Linked DNA regions of Homo sapiens: region 2 is linked to region 1. Evidence: fine-mapped expression QTL. Tissue or cell type: whole blood. Region 1 holds a variant in brackets; the other region holds the start of a gene. All regions are shown on one strand. Distances are from middle to middle.

Evidence for each region. PIP is the estimated chance that this variant, and not a neighbour inherited with it, causes the effect.
Region 2: NAP1L1 starts here. The variant in region 1 is fine-mapped to the expression of NAP1L1 in whole blood (TOPMed, PIP 0.95).

Annotation. Positions count from the first base shown.
Region 1 is chr12:76,140,517-76,148,623 of GRCh38, forward strand. No RefSeq gene overlaps it. Among named protein-coding and RNA genes, the nearest start is that of NAP1L1, 60 kb to the left of the region's middle. The variant C/T (reference allele first, on the strand shown) is at 4,943.
Region 2 is chr12:76,080,284-76,088,390 of GRCh38, forward strand. NAP1L1 (nucleosome assembly protein 1 like 1) reads right to left here and starts at 4,402. Exons shown (of 15, transcript NM_004537.7): 1 at 4,284-4,402. LOC124902970 (a long non-coding RNA gene) reads left to right here and starts at 4,802. Exons shown (of 2, transcript XR_007063379.1): 1 at 4,802-4,884; 2 at 5,928-6,450. RefSeq lists silencers at 3,717-3,786, 3,837-3,896, 3,967-4,016, 4,157-4,236, 4,677-4,836 and an enhancer at 4,132-4,673.

The DNA of each region.
Region 1 (8,107 bases):
ACGAGGTAGAGTTTGCAGTGAGCCAAGATCATGCCATTGCACTCCAGCCTGGGCAACAGAGAGACTCCATCTCAAAAAAAGAAAAAAAGGAATGCTGATGAGCGAGGAGCTGATCTGGTTGAAACAGGAAACCTTCCTACCTTACTGCCTTGAAACTCCTACAACTCAGCTAAACATTTTTGCTAACTGTCACCAGAGAATTCCCTTGGTTCCTTCAACTACTGAAACCTGGGCTTGCAACAGATTTCATTCAAGTTTAATTTAGAGGAGAACACACAATAATCCACCATCTGTTAGTGTCAAGATACTGGTATACAGTTGACCCTTGAACAACACTGGTTTGAGTTGCACAGTTCCACTTAGATGCAGATTTTCTTCCCCACTGCCATCCCTGAGACAGCTAGACCAACCCTTTTTCTTCCTCCTCAGCCTACTCAAGGTGAAGACAACAAAGATGAAGAACTTTATGATGATTCACTTCCATTTAATGAATAGTAAATGTATTTTCTCTTCCTTATGATTTTCTTAATAACATTTTCTCTAGCTTACTTTATTGTAAGATAACAGTACATAATCCATATAACCTACAAAATATATGTTAACTGTGTGTGTTATTGGTAAGGCTTCTGGTCAACAGTAGGCTATCAGTAGTTAAGTTTTGGGGGAGTTTAAAGGTATGTTTGCCTTTTTCCCTTTTTTTTTTTTTTTTTTTGAGACAGAGTCTCGCTCTGTTGCTCAGGCTGTAGTGCAGTGGCTTGATCTTGGCTCACTGCAACTTCTGCCTCTTGGGTTCAAGTGATTCTCCCACCTCAGCCTCCCAAGTAGCTGGTTACAGGTGTGTGCCACCATGCCTGGCTAATTTTTTATTTTTGTTTTTATTTTTTTAGTTGAGATGGGGTTTCACCACATTGGCCAAGCTGGTCTGGAACTCCTGGCCTCAAGTGATCTGCCCATCTTGGCCTCCCAAAGTGCTGGGATTAGAGGTGTGAGCCACTGCACCCGGCTTAAAAGTTATATTTGAACTTTTGATTGTGTAGGGGGTTGGTGCCTACACAATCCCCTAGATACTTGGTTGTGTATCATGTATCTCAGGTATCTACTGTATTTTATAGGTATCAAAGCAACAATGCAATTTATTTATTAATTTGTCAAATACTTTGTGTCTTCTATAAACCAGGCTGTTACAAATACAATGGCAAACAAAACTGGCAAGATCCTTGCTAATAAAGAAGTGAATAAACAAATTAGTAGCAACAAATACGGTAAGAAATAAATAACAAGATAATTTAAAATCATAGGCTGGGTGCAGTGGGGCATGCCTACAATGCCAGCACTTTGGGAGGCCATGGTGGGAGGTCACTTGAGCCCAGGAGTTCGAGGTCAGCCTGGGCAATATAATGAGACCCCCGTCTCAACTTTGTATTAAAAATTAAAAATAAAATAAAATAATAGTAAGTGCAATTAAAGAAATAAAGTCATATATTAGAGGTGTCCATGAAAAAATGAAATAAAGTAAGAAATTAAAATAGGAAAGTAAGAAAATGACATTTGATTTGAGTAATTATTATAAAAAAACCATTAATTTATAAAAACATATATATGGGCAAAGAGCAAGAACACACAATAAAGAAGAAATACAAAAGAACAGTATGAAGAGATTCTTCACTTCACCAGTGGCAGGGAAATGCAAACAAAAATATTATAAACTACTGCATGCTTACTTTAGAGGAAGCACAGAACAGTTCAGAAGGCTGCTCTTGTTTCTGACACTAAGTGCATTCTGACCCAAAACAATAATGGCCACAGTTTGGTTCACCTGGGTAGCACCTGCTACTCATAGAAGGACTTCTATCAATCACCCCTGCTGTCACTGTTTCAGTTTGTGAGGCATGTTGTGACCAGGGCCAGCTCCTTGGGCAATCTGTTTCACACAATCACAGCAAATTGAGAGGCACTGGGCAATCAGAGACACGGGCTGAGATTTAATTCTCACTGGTATTCAGGTGAGCTGGGACCTGCCCTGTTCAAATCTGCACTCTTTGTTCTTCAAATACAGAACAAGAGTGGTAGGAGAGTAGTTGGCAAAGCTCGTTAAGATGTGTCACAACACCTGAAGTATCACCCTTTCTCTTGAAAACTGGAAAACGGTATCTGGTCACAAGGCCAGCAATTAATGTCAATCTGCAGAAACAAACAGCCAAAAACAAAAACAACAATATAACAACAAAAAAAAAAACAACAAAAAACAGAGGCAGAGAAACTGATAATCACACCTTCCCAAATTAATGTTGTCTACATGCTAATTTTTTTCAATTAAATTTATCCTCTAATTCAAATTGACAATTTAAAGGTAAATCACCATTAGCCATCCTACTGGTACACTCTGTTTAGTGTAGCACATTGTAATTCAAATACTATCTACAAATCAATGTTTAAAGAAAAAAGTGATCTTTTATTTATTTATTTTAATTTTAATTTTTTCTTGAGACAGAGTTTCGCTCTGTCACCCAGGCTGGAGTGCAGCGGTGTGATCTCAGCTCACTGCAACCTCCGCCTCCCAGATTCAAGCAATTCTCCTACTTCAGCTTCCCAAGTAACAGGGATTAAAGTGCACGCCGCCACACCTGGCTAATATCTGTTTATGTTTTAAAGCTCTCTTGAGAGGTGAGGAAACATATACTACTTAATTTTCTTTTTCAGAATGAAGGAAACAGGCTAAATGCATGACAGCATTCTATTTCTAGACTCTCCCATGTCCCTGCTCCCTTCTCCCAGAAATTCTTAAACATGCACAAAGGAGATACATACAATGATGTTCACTAAAGCGCTATTCATAATAGTGAAAATGAGGAGATAACTGCCCATCAGAATGGAAAAAAAAGTTTAATCATACGGATTATTATTTAGCAGTTTTTCAGAATCACAACTAACAATTAAAAAGGGCTTGCCATGTGCCCTGCCCTGATGTGAGAACCTTATGTATATTCAGTCATTTTATGTTATGAGAGTTAATGAACTCGAAAGTGTCAAATGCTTACAACTGTGCCTGGTCCATAGTAAGCCCTTAGAAAATCTCAGCTGGGGTTTTTACCTTGTTTTTAATGCACTATTTTTTTTTTGTACAATAGCATCATTGTAATACCACCTGTATATTATTATCCCCATTGAGAGAAAAGAAAAGTAGGACACAAAGAGGTTAAGCTACTTGCCCAAAGCATTTGCTTTCTCGGGGTTCAAAAGCAGACAAGAAGGCTCCAGCCCAGAAGCTTCCTGCCAGAAAGCCACAGGCCAGAAGGCAGCACCTCCTCCGAAAGTTCAAGAAGGGTCAAAAAGCTGCAGCCCAGAAAGCACCTGCTCCAAAGTCATGTGGCAAAAAAGCATAAGAGGTGATTATAGAAGTAAATGAAGGTTCTTTTTGGCATGCTGGCAAAAAAAGAAACAAACAAACAACAACAAAGCCATGATAGAAATCCTTGGTTCTAAGATTATCAGTATCCTCTCCATGCATACTATCTCTTTACATTCTTCTTCCTTTCTTCAGCTTTCCCATGACCAATGATAAAGCACAGATTTTGGATACTAGTCAAATAAACTGGACAGAAAGTAATAAAGTTTTTTCTGCCATCGTCTCCCAGAAGAGTGAAGAAATGAGGAAAACACAGTGAAACCTCATTATACAGCATCTTCCTACAGATGTAGTGGGACCAATCCCCTCCCCACACGCATAGCACCCCGTTATAACACAAAGCAGAGATCCCCCTGGCATTCTATCAGAGTTCTGATGGATGTATTTTTCTGAAGGATGTCTAGGCAGTGTGACTTGGCATTCTGCCCAGGGAGTGAGGGATGTATGTATGTGTGTGTGTGTGTGTGTGTGTGTGTGGGTGGGTGTGTGGGTGTATACATGCATTTGAAGAAGTTTCCCCAGATGATTCTGACCTCCCTGCAATATACTATGAGACCAAGAAGCCATAGCTTTTAAAAAGTGTAAAATCACATTTACAGAAGCATCACACCCCAGGAAAGGAATGTCATTTCTGATTTGCAAAGCTCACAGGAAGGGAGAGAAGACTTTCATCTGTCATTCCTTGAGATTCTGAGGCAAGGGACCTTGCTACATCTGCTGAGAGAAAGCCACTTTGTTCATCTTGAATTTCCATCACCATCACAGAGAAGCTGTAGGCCAAACTTGTTCTTTCATTCCCCTATCATCAGATAAAATAATCTAAATTAAACACAAAGATGTTAAATGTAAATGTACATACTCCCAAGCTAACAATGTAATATGATTTGTGAAAAGAGCTATTCTATATTGATCATAAGCCTTTAGGTGAGGCCTGTGAGGAGGGCATGGACTTGGGGCTGGGGTACAAGCAATGGTTTTCATATCACGGAGAATTGGGATGCCATTAACCGTGTAAAATAATCATTCCAAGTGAATGTATGGTACACCTGCATTAGGAGTTAGAGACCAGCCTGGCAACATAGTGAAACCCCGTCTCTATTAACAAAAAATAGAAAAGTTACCTGGGCATCGTGGCACGCACCTGTAATCCCAGCTACTCCAGAAGCTGAGGCAGGAGAATTGCGTAAACCCAGGAGGCGGAGGTTGCAGTGAGCTGAGATTGTGCCACTGCACTCCAGCCTGGGTGACAGAGCAAGACTCTGTCTCAAAAAAAATTAACACATAAAAATAAAGATGCTGAACAAAATTAAAGATAAGTTATAAAAAAATAATCAATTCCTTTGGTCAGGTAAAGTTCTCTCATTTATGAATTATTAATAATGATATCTAAAAATGTTTTTATCTCCAGTGCCCAAAGCACTGAGCAGTTGAATTCCGGTTTCTCCTCAGACTGCCTTGTTTTAATAGACAGAAGATACTACGGAGCATCCACTTCCCACACAGAAATAAAGGCACTTGTACGTATCACCTTTTTGT[C/T]ACCATTTGAACCACTAAAATGCTGTTTGAAAATTTAGTGATGATCAGAATCTTTTCAAGGGAAACCTTACAAAATATGGGTGCCCAGGCATCACCCATCTCCCAGCTATGTGTTCAGACATGGTGGGAATGAAAACCCACAGCCTATGAAGATGGGGTTAGGCTTATTCTTCGCTCTTTGTGGATGTATCATGTCTAGATTTGCTCAAGTTTTCAGCATTCTTGGGGCACTAACCTAAAAATCTCTTGGAAGATTGCAGAGGTTATAAGGTTGAACTCAGTGTAGCTGTCCTCCAAGCTGCATACCCCAGAGGGAAATTTATGAAGATATTAAGTCTATATAACAGCATCAGAGAAAAAAGGAAGTTGGTCATTTGGTGAACACTCCATTAACGACCGTTATTAACTTCTTACTATATGTTCTAGATTGTAATAGGAACTGGGAAAAATGGAAGAAAACTCTCAGACCATTACTTAAACAAGTACAATTAGAAAATAAGATATTAAAAAATCATCTCAAGCTTCTTCTTGATTTCTATATTGCTAAGGTTAGAAACCCACCAGAAGGATTACTTTATCAAGAAAACATCATGGAGGCCAGTGGCTTGTGGAGCGCAGTGGCTTGTGCCTGTAATCCTAGCACTTTGGGAGGGCAAGGCGGGTGGATCACTTGAGGTCAGGAGTTTGAGACCAGCCTGACCAACACGATGAAACCCTGTCTCTACCTAAACATACAAAAGTTAGCTGGGTGTGGTGGTGAGCACCTGTAGTCACAGCTACTCAGGAGGCTGAGGCAGGAGAATCACTTGAACCTGGGAGGCAGAGGTTGCAGTGAGCCAAGATAGCGCCACTGCACTCGAGCCTGGATGACAGAGTGGGACTTTGTCTCAAAAAAAAAAAAAAGAAAGAAAAAGAAAAAGAAAAGGAAAATATAATGGAATTTTTGATAAACCCATGAGTTACTCTTCATGGGAAAGACTGCGACAGGCGGTCTAAACTACACTGCATATTCAAATATTGGGAAGCTTTGGTTTTCTCAGGATTGCTTACAGGCTGAGAGGCTTAGGAATCCTGGGATTTAAAGAAGAGTTGAGAAAAAGTTTCCAGGATGCTGGTATGTATGTCCCTAAAGCAAAATAACCAAAGAGAATTTCAGGGGCAAGAATGGCTGAAGAAATTCAAAAACTGTGGTAGCTAAAATCTGTGTGCTGTGACATCCTGCTCTACAACAGCCCTGTGTGAGTGGTGCTTAGTACTCGATGGAGTGGGGACTGTGTCAGCAATGTTGGGAAGACAGCAGCGGGATCAGGAACAGGAGAGGAAGGGCTAAGGATTGAACTTATTTGATGTTAATATTAATATTCACTAGGACCATGAATCCTTTTAAGTATTTCTGCTTATGTTTTAGAGCGAATCAGCTGAATTTTTAAAAAGGTTACCATTAAACTGACACCTAACTATGCATGTTTCTAATATGAATTTTTTATAATATCAGATTCTAGAATAAAGCATAATATATCCAGGAGGAGAGGTAATTGAGGCCGTGGACTAAACTGAAGCAGACCTGGGTTGAAATTCTGGCTCTTGGCCTTCATTTTCTCATCCATTCACTATTGTGAGGATGGAATGAGAGGTTCTAAGTTTCAGCACTGAGCACGGCTGGTGCATGGTAAGCATTCAATAATGGGAATCATTATTGTGACCTTTAATGGGTTCAGGAGAAATTTCCTTTGATCCAATTCTGAGACATTGGAAGAATTCCTTTGTCAAGATGTTTATACCATCAGAAAGATAATTATTTTTTCTTAAAAATATTGTTTTATATTAAAAACATATAACTATTGTCAGGGCTTTTCTGACTGCAAGTAACAGAAACCTCAACTTAAACAAGCTTAAGGGAAAAGGGAATTTATTGATTTTAACAACGAAAACACCAGGGGCCTTCAATCTCATTAGATAAATGAGTTCAAAAATGTCAAGAGTCCCTCCCTCTCTCTCTCTCTCTCTCTCTCCCACTCTCTCTCAGTTCTACCATTTTCTGTTGGAATTTGGCATCAGACTGACCCTACCCATGTCGTGGTCACTGTCACTGTCAGGCTTAGATTGCCCAAACTTGATATCTAGGAGAAAGAGACCTTCTTCCATTTGTTCTCACAAAAGTTTCATAATTGAGTCTCATTGACATTGAATGAGTCATGAACCCATCACTGAACCAACCCATGGGCTAGAATAGTGGGATACCCTGACTGAATAGGCCTGGGACACATGCCCACCCTTGGAGATAAGGGGAGGTGACTTACTCATAACACATGGATGGAGAGTGGGAAGGGAGTGGGAATGAAGGTAAAATTTTTTTACCCTAAAAAAATTTGAGTATTGTCACAAGAAAAATGAGAAATGGATGCTGTGCAGACAAAAACACAGACATTCACAAAAACCTTGAATGGCACTGGTCTTAGAGGAGAGGGACAACATTATGTACCACAAGCACATAATGAATAGGACTGGACAATGGACCAAATCTGTGTTGTGGAAGGCACTTAATAATGGCATTTTTAGGCCAGGCGTGGTGGCTCACACCTGTAATCCCAGCACTTTGGGAGGCCGAGGTGGGCGGATCACGAGGTCAGGAGATCGAGACCATCCTGGCTAATATGGTGAAACCCCATTTCTACTAAAAATACAAAAAATTAGCTGGGCGTGGTGGCGGGTGCCTGTAGTCCCAGCTACTCGAGAGGCTGAGGCAGGAGAATGGTGTGAACCCGGGAGGCGGAGCTTGCAGTGAGCCGAGATTGCACCACTGCACTCCAGCCTGGGCAACAGAGTAAGACTCTGTCTCAAAAAAAAAAAACAAAAAATGGCATTTTTAGCCATCCATGTTATTGTAATTAATCTTTTAAAGAGAAGATGCCTCAATATACCCTCAATACATAGCCTATTATATCCACTGTATAATAAATATTTTTTCTAGGTTTCTTAGTATGTCCTATTTTTTGTTTTGTTTTGCTTTTTGTCTTAGTCCATTTTATGGTGCTATAACAGAATACCACAGACTGGTTAATTTATAAACAATGGAAGTTTATTTGGCTTATATTTCTGGAGGCTTGGAAGTCCAAGAATGAGAGGCTGCATCTGGTGAGGGCCTTCTTGCTGCGTCATAACACG
Region 2 (8,107 bases), 60 kb before region 1:
TATGGCACTTACAATTATTTACAGTACATAATACTTGATAAGGACAATAAATGATTTATTGGTTTATGTATTTACTATACTATGCTTTTTGTGGTTAGAGTACACTCCAACTTATTTTTAAAAAAGTTAAAACTGCCTACAGTATTCAACATAGCAACATGCTATACAGGTTTGTAGCCTAGGAACAACAAACAGGCTATACCATATAACCCAGGTATGTACTAGGCCGTACCATCTAGGTTTGTGTAAATACATTCTATGACATTCACAAAAGGATGAAATGGCTTAATGATGCATTTCCCCCAGAACACATCCCCATCATTAACCATGCATGACTGTGTATGTAAACAAATTCTATGCTGGAAGAAGACTTCATGACCATAACTGCTATACAGCTTTTCCCTAGAGCACAGTGGGATACAAGGTGGAGTGCTTTTGAATTTCATGCTGCTATGGTTTGAGTATTTGTCCCCTCTAAAACTCAAGTTGAAATTTAATCCCCTATGTGGCAGCACTGAGAGATGGGGGTCTTTAAGAAGTGATTGGATCATGAGGGCTCCACCCTCACAAACGAATTAATCCATTCATGGATTAATGTATTTCTTTATAAATTACCCAGTTTCCCACCAGGGGAGCTGGAGAGCCAAGCTACCCAGTTAGCACACTCAGCCCCCTCCCCATGTGATACCCTGTACTGCCTTGGGAACCTTCAGAGTCTCCACAAGTAAGGTTCTCACCACATGGGTCCCCTCGATCTTGGATTTCTCAGCCTCTATAACTGCAAGAAATAAATTCTTTTTTTTTAAATAAATTACTCAGTTTCAGGTATTCTAAGCAACAGAAAATGAACTAATATTCATGCTGATTTATAGCAGAACAGTGTAAGTCAACATTCTTTCAAAACCAGGATAAAAATTATCTCATCATAAGTTATCACTGCTCACGTACGTAACCACGGACGGGTTATCTAACCACTCCACACCTATTTTTTTTCCTTGTTAAAATGTTGATGCTACCTGTCTCTAAGTAAATTAAATGAGCTAATAATACACACAGAATTTAAAACAATGCCTGAATAATCAATCAGTGTTGCCTATTACATTATTTATCCCTGTTATGCTCTTCTGTACCCTCTTTAGAAAATAATTCCAAGACTGAAATTATAACTCTAGACAGGTGTGGTGGCTCACACCCATACACTCAGCACTTTGGGAGGCCAAGGCAAAATCGCTTGAGGTGAGGCATTTAAGACCAGCCAGGGCAACACAGCAAGAGCCTGTCTCCACAAGGAAAAAATATATATAACCCTGTTTCCCAATAAAAATTAAAATGTACAAAACTTCTGAATAAGTAAAAATATATACAAATATGCAGGAAGTAAAAGGCAGAGTTGGTAACCAAAGGTATAGAAGCCATTTTCTATGGCAAGCCCACTAATGTACTCTAATGTTCTGTAGTCATTGTGCTAAACGACTTACATATGGATAGGTGTAAAGTAACAACTCTCTCCTTCTAACCCCTATTCTGCCCAAAAACTTATTTAGATGAAACTAGTTTGAAATGGAACTTAAAATCATCAAATTATAACAGGTTCCTTTGTGTAAACGCTGTATTACTCTTTGACCCCTTTACCCTTTCCTTCCTTTATAGCTCTCATCACAATTTAACATTCTACATCTAAGCAACCAATTTGCCTCTTTTGCTCATGACATAAGATACATGTCCATACAGGTGCTAGATAGTTACCCAAAGACTAAACTGAGAACACAATTACAGGTTTGATTAAACTTGAAGATCTGAATACACTGATCATTAATATTTTGATATTGATGAGTCATTCTCTCTAATCCTTTGTTTCAAATTTACAACCAAGAAGTGAATAAAATATTGTATTTTGACATCTTCAGACCTTTGAAGTCCAACAGATACTGCTTCTTTAGCCCCTTCTACAAAAAGACCCTTAGTTTTGAATATATTTTGAGAATTTAGAATCAACTCAGTTTTACCAGGAGCCAACAGGAGCAAGCTGAATAAAATGAGATGGCATTTTGGATTACATTAGTTATGGTACAGGTATTCGTTTCAAAAATCTCATTAAAGGCCAAGTGCAGTAATTTACCATATTCAGTATTAGCTTTATAATTCTGCAAATCAATGGGCCTAATATAAAAATAGGCACTTTGTAGCAGATAAAATTTAGAAAGATATTCAAATTGGTATAGTGAAAACTTTTAAATTTCTATTTACTAACATAATGTTGACTTGGAGAATCTATGAAAGTCAGGTTTTATGACAGAAGATGTCCAAGTCCACCTACCAGGGTTTAGTTCCATACATTCTCCAAAGGACAGTATTCTTAGAACTAAACTATAGATTTAGGCCATTTATTTAAACTTGGGCAACTTCAAACAAGCTTGAAACACAAGAGTGCCTTGAAAATAACTGTAAAAGTCATTTACTTCCCTTCGATTTTTAAATGGTACCCTATACATAAAAGGTTTTTCCCTTATTCAATCAAAGGTAATGTATATTACTTCCAAAGTATAGGAGTATTAATTTAAGCTGACCAAAAAAAGAGGACCCAGATACTCGTTTCCAAAGATGTTTTGAATCCACCTATTTTCAAAAGGCCAAATTTCATTTTACAGCTCTTGTGAAACCAGGCAAGCAGTGTAAATTTTAAAATGCAGCAGTGGGATATCTTCAAATGTAGCAGTGAGATTTTTAAAATGTAGTTGTTTCAAAACTGATCAGTGACCGTCTAAAATACGGGCTCCTTGAGGACATCCTGCGCCTGGTTCATCCTTTTTGCACTCTCAAAGTCTAGCCTTCCCAGATGGGACCTCAGTCCCAGCCCCCCTACACTGCCATCCCCCAGATCTTTAGGGCAGTAGGGTTCATTGACAAGGTTGCAGGCTACAAACTTGGCAAAGTTTATACTAACACCTCATTCCATCCCACCTCCCATCTTAAAAAGGAAACCGTTAAGTATCTTATTCTAGTGACTTCAATAAAGGAACTAATTTATAAGACAGCCAAGAACAATTAAAGTCATAAAGGGCCAAACATTTTATTTTCATCTAAGAACCGTTTGCAGGGGTGGTCCGATCTTTTGGCTTCCCTGGGCCACACTAGAACTGTCTTGGGCCACACGTAAAATACATTAACTAGCTGATGAGCTTTTTTTTCCAAAAAAAAAAAAAAAAAAAAAACCTCATGAATTTGTGTTGGGCCACATTTAAAGCCGTCCTGGGCCGCGGGTTGGACAAGCTTGGTTTAGGGGTTTAGATCGATCAGGATCAATACTCCCCAAATAAAAAACCCTGATCAAGACACCCATCTAACAGTACCTGGGAAACACAATAACAACCTTTTGCTAATAACAGTTAATATAAGCGCTATATACGCGTTAACTTTTTAAAATACTAGCAGTGGAGGCCCTTCCTTATCATCAGCTAACATCCACAATCTCTGGTACCAATAAAAAGATTAAGACCAAAGAGAAGCAGGGAAGAGTTTGAAACCCAGGGACAGGGCTTACTCGCTTACCCTTCCTTTTCACATTCCACCGTCTCTACAACTTTCAAAGTAAGCACAGACCGAGGGCAAGGGTCTCCAACCAGGCCCAGCCAGTGGCCATGAAGCCCATTACCACGTGTGGAGCGAAGCCGCCGGGGGTTTCCCCTCCCCGCGCGGCCGCCCCCAATGGGCGGAGAGCCCGGGAGCGTCGCAGCCTCCCCCGCCCCCTCCCCGCCTCGGGGACTCGTCCCTCCACAGCCCCTCCCTCCCGTCGGAATTCGCAGCCTCCGCCGTTCTTTTCATCTCCCAGCGGCCTCCCTCCTGGTATTATTTTTGAGGGAAAAGCAGGGGGGTGTCCAAGAGGCGGCCGGCTCTGCACTCGGCCCGGCCCGTACGCCGGGGGCCTCCCGGTCCTCGCGGCGCAGCCGAGTCTCAGGGCACCCGGGCGTCACCGCGGCCTCGCTCCGGTCCACGCGGAAAAGACGGTGGAGCTCAGAGAACCTTAGGCCTCCAGGCCGCGCCAACCCCTACGTCGCCTCAGCCGTCCCCGATAAAAGCGCTGGTCGGCCCCGGGGCCCCTCTCAGGCTCCGGGGTCCGGACTCCGCGGTCCTGTCCGACCTCACAGGACGACCCCGGAGGCCACGGGCGGCCAGCGGCCCCGACTCCCGGCTCCCAGTCCCTCCATCCCTCCGGCCCTCCCATCTGCGCAGGCCGCCCAGCCAACACCACGTTCCCCCTTCCCTTCCAGGCCCCCATCCGTTACCGGCGACTAGTATGGGGAGCCAGGCGGCCGGAGCTGCGCAGGCAGTGACTCAGGGCGGCAGCGGCAGCAGCAGCGGGAGGAGCAGGAGGCGGCGCCGCGAGCAGATGGCGCTAAAAAAGACCCAAGAGCCCGCCGCTCGCGCTCATATACAATTAGCGTCAGCACGTAGGGCCCTTTCGCCGCCCTCCTCCCGGCCTTGTAGTCTCCCAGCAACGCGAGCGAGAGGCGGGTCCAGGCCGGGTTGCCTAGCAACTGAACCGTCCTCCTTCCCCGGCGACCTCCATACCCCCACCGAGGACTCCTGCAGCCCCGAGGCCCAGGCGCCGCGCTTGGGCTCCTCTGGTTCCCGCCGGTGTCTAACCTCCTCTGTTAAGCACCCCACCATATCTTTTCTCCCTGCTGAGCCGGAAAGGAAATTTCAACCCCATCAGTTGTGGGGAAGGCCTGGCCCGCGTGCCCGGCGCCCGGCCCGCCCCGCCCCCTTCGGCGTTGTGCTGGGAACGCTCAGGGCTGGCGCCAGTCGCCTGGTCCCTCGCTCGCCGCAGCCTAGACGGCGGACGCTCCCTGTCAAGGCCTAATTCCTGCAACTCGCCGGCCCCCGGTAACCGTTTTCCTTCCCCGCCTAAGAAAAACAGTTTTTTCCTCTAGACCACTTCGGCGGCCTCTTCTGACAGTTTTGCTTCTCCTATGCCAGCGGGTCTCCGCGCCTTTAGGGGGTGCTCGTCATCCTTTGCCCCCCAACCCCCCGCCACATCCTCGTAACTGATGTACAGTCCGTCAGTTCGGCTTCAGTTCTTTTGACGGATGAAAATGGCATATTTGTGCATTCTCTGGATGCGTTATAATGAGGACACTCAGTACGTCCGTTGTTTCATCTTTCTGAAAAAGTAAATCACATTAAATCCTCAGGCTTGTAAAACCTCATAGCTAATTTTCAAGTGATGATGAATTGACTAATACTAACTCAAAAAGTTGTTCTCAGAGTATGGTCTGAGGGTCCCCAGACCCTTTCATGGGGAAGGTCAAAACTATTTCCATATTAATGTCAAGACTGCCTTTTGCATTCTCATTCTCTCACAAGTGTACAGTGGGGTTTTCCGGAGGCTACGTGACATGTGATAAGGAAACAGACTGAAAATAGAAGCAGATAGGAGAATCCAGTCATCTGCGGTTAAACCAGACGTTAAAGAGATTTGCAAAAACTCGATTTGGGGGCAAGGGGGAGTAGTTATTTTTCATATAAAAATTATTTTTTGTTAATATTTGATTGCTTTATTGTTTTTAAATGAAATACTCTTAAAATTTCTCACTTTTAATTTCTGATATAAATATCAGTATCAGTAATGCACATAAAAGTTCTTTGGGGTCCTCAACTTTTAAAGGAGTGTAAAGGAATCCTAAGACCACAAAGTTTGAGAACCTCTTCTCTAAATCTTGCATTTATTGAAACTTCAAACTGCCTAGAATCCCCTATTGTAATCCACACATTTAGCAACTTTATCTTCCGTTTTAGGGGATACAATGTTTTCCTTGGCCCTCCAGAACCTCATTGAAATTATTTGCCTTCCCACTCTATACTGCAGACGACTCTGTTTATTCATTCATTTTAGTTTTTCATATACAATTCCTTTGTTGTTCTCATAGCCTATTCCTGTACACCCTTCTCAACAATGATGTAATGATACAAGGAGCATAATAGCATCAATAATGGATCTTCAGGAAGAACCCACTATACATAAACAAGGTAGACCAGTGCTCAGTTTGAACATAAATTTGACACATTAATTTCAATAAGAACTTCAGGAATGTTGCATTTTAATCAAAGCTGTGCACGATGCAAGGTAATTAGCATATTAAAATGAACTAAATAACTTTCACTTTCTTTCCATAAATCTTTATGGTAGCAGAATTTCTGAGACAAAATTGAGAAGTTAGCTTTTGTGGTGGTTTTTATCCCACACCAGAGAGCCTCATCAATTTTCGGCACTTCGCTCATGAAGGCTCTGGATTTTTTAGGTTTCACCACCCCCCCACCAACCCCTATAACTTAGGTGTTATCATTACCAGTACATATGCTCTTTCCCCCTTTTCTCCAGCTTCCTCTTCTTTTTTCAGTGTATCCTAGCCAATCTAAGAAACTAAACAATAAAATATTTCTAATAATGCATGCCTTTGTAATATAGTCTTTTGAACCAGTTTGTAAATCTAAGTCTTTGCCATTAAAGTTCAGGGAAGGGCAGACATTTATGCATTCATTCAACAAATATTTATGTCAGGCACAACTTCGGACTCTGGAAATACAGCATTTAGTAAGAAAGACACGGTTCTTGATTTTATTGAAGTTATGGTCTAGTGAGGTGAGGCAAATGATTAGAGATAAAATAATTTTACTAATAAAATATTAGTAATAAAACAATTTCACTTATCAATAATAAATAATTGATAAGTGAATGCTATAAAGAAAATAAAATGAGAAAAGGGGTAGGAGGTGACTGACCTGAAGATACCTTTGAGCTTTTTTTTTTTTTTTTTTTCGACGGAGTCTCACTCTGTTGCCCAGGCTGGAGTGCAGTGGCGCGATCTCGGCTCACTGCAACTTCTGCCTCCCGGTTTCAAGCAATTGTCCTGCCTCAGCCTCCCGATTAGCTGTGACTACAGGCAGGCGCAACCACGCCCAGCTAGTTTTTTTGTGTTTTTAGTAGAGATGGGGTTTCACCATGCTGGTCAGTCTGGTCTCGAGCTCCTGACCTCAAATGATCCGCCTGCCTCAGCCTCCCAAAGTGCCGGGGTTACAGGTGTGAGCCTCTGCATCCGGCCACCTTTGAGCTTTTTACATTGGCCCCTCTTATACCCCCAAATCACACAATGTAGTTAACTCATCTAACTTAATTGCAATAAATGGTGACCCTGGTCACTGATCTTGGGCCATGCGAAATTTTCTGTTGCAGTTCCTTTTCTCATGCTCTCTTTGGAAGCATATATACTAAAATTAAAGGTCCTTTTTTCTCTATCTCCCATGATTTTCATTTGGTAGACTTTTATAGCATTGTAGCCTGGAGGCTTAGAGGGGTGGCTTTGGAGTCAAACAGCCTATTTTGTCCCCATTTTTCTACCACTTAATAGCTGTGTAACTTTGGATAAGTCAGTTAGCCATCCCAGGTTTCATTTTCCACATCTGTAAAATGGGGAAAATAAGCATGCATTTTTCATAGGGCTGTTGTGAAACTTAAAAAAATTTTTTTTTTTTTAAGTCAAGAGGGATCTTGGTATATTACCCAGGCTGGTCTTGAACTCCTGGACTCAAGAGATCCTCCCACTTCAGCCTCCCAAAGTGTTGGGATTACAGGCATGAGCCACCTTGCCCAGCTGTGAAACTTTTGGAGACAGAGTCTCACTCTGTCACCCAGGCTGAGGTGCAGTGGCGCAATCTCGGCTTACTGCAACCTCTGCCTCCCATGTTCAAACAATTCTTGTGCCTCAGCCTCCCAAGTAGCTGAGACTGCAGGTGCGCGCCACCACATCCCACTAATTTTTTTGTATTTTAGTAGAGATGGGGTTGCACAATGCCCAGGCTGGTCTCAAACTCTTGAGCTCAGACAATCCACCCGCCTCGGCCTCCCAAAGTGCTAGGATTACAGGTGTAAGCCACTGTGCCTGGCTCAGCTGTGAAACTTTAAATAACACATTTAAGTTGCTTAACATAATGCCTGACATATATAGTGACCGCTCAATAAAAGGTAACCATTTTTAACCTCTTACTGAAGTTTTGTTTTTATTTTTGTTTTATTTAAAGGTTTAAGGAACTACCCCGAAGTCTTCTGATA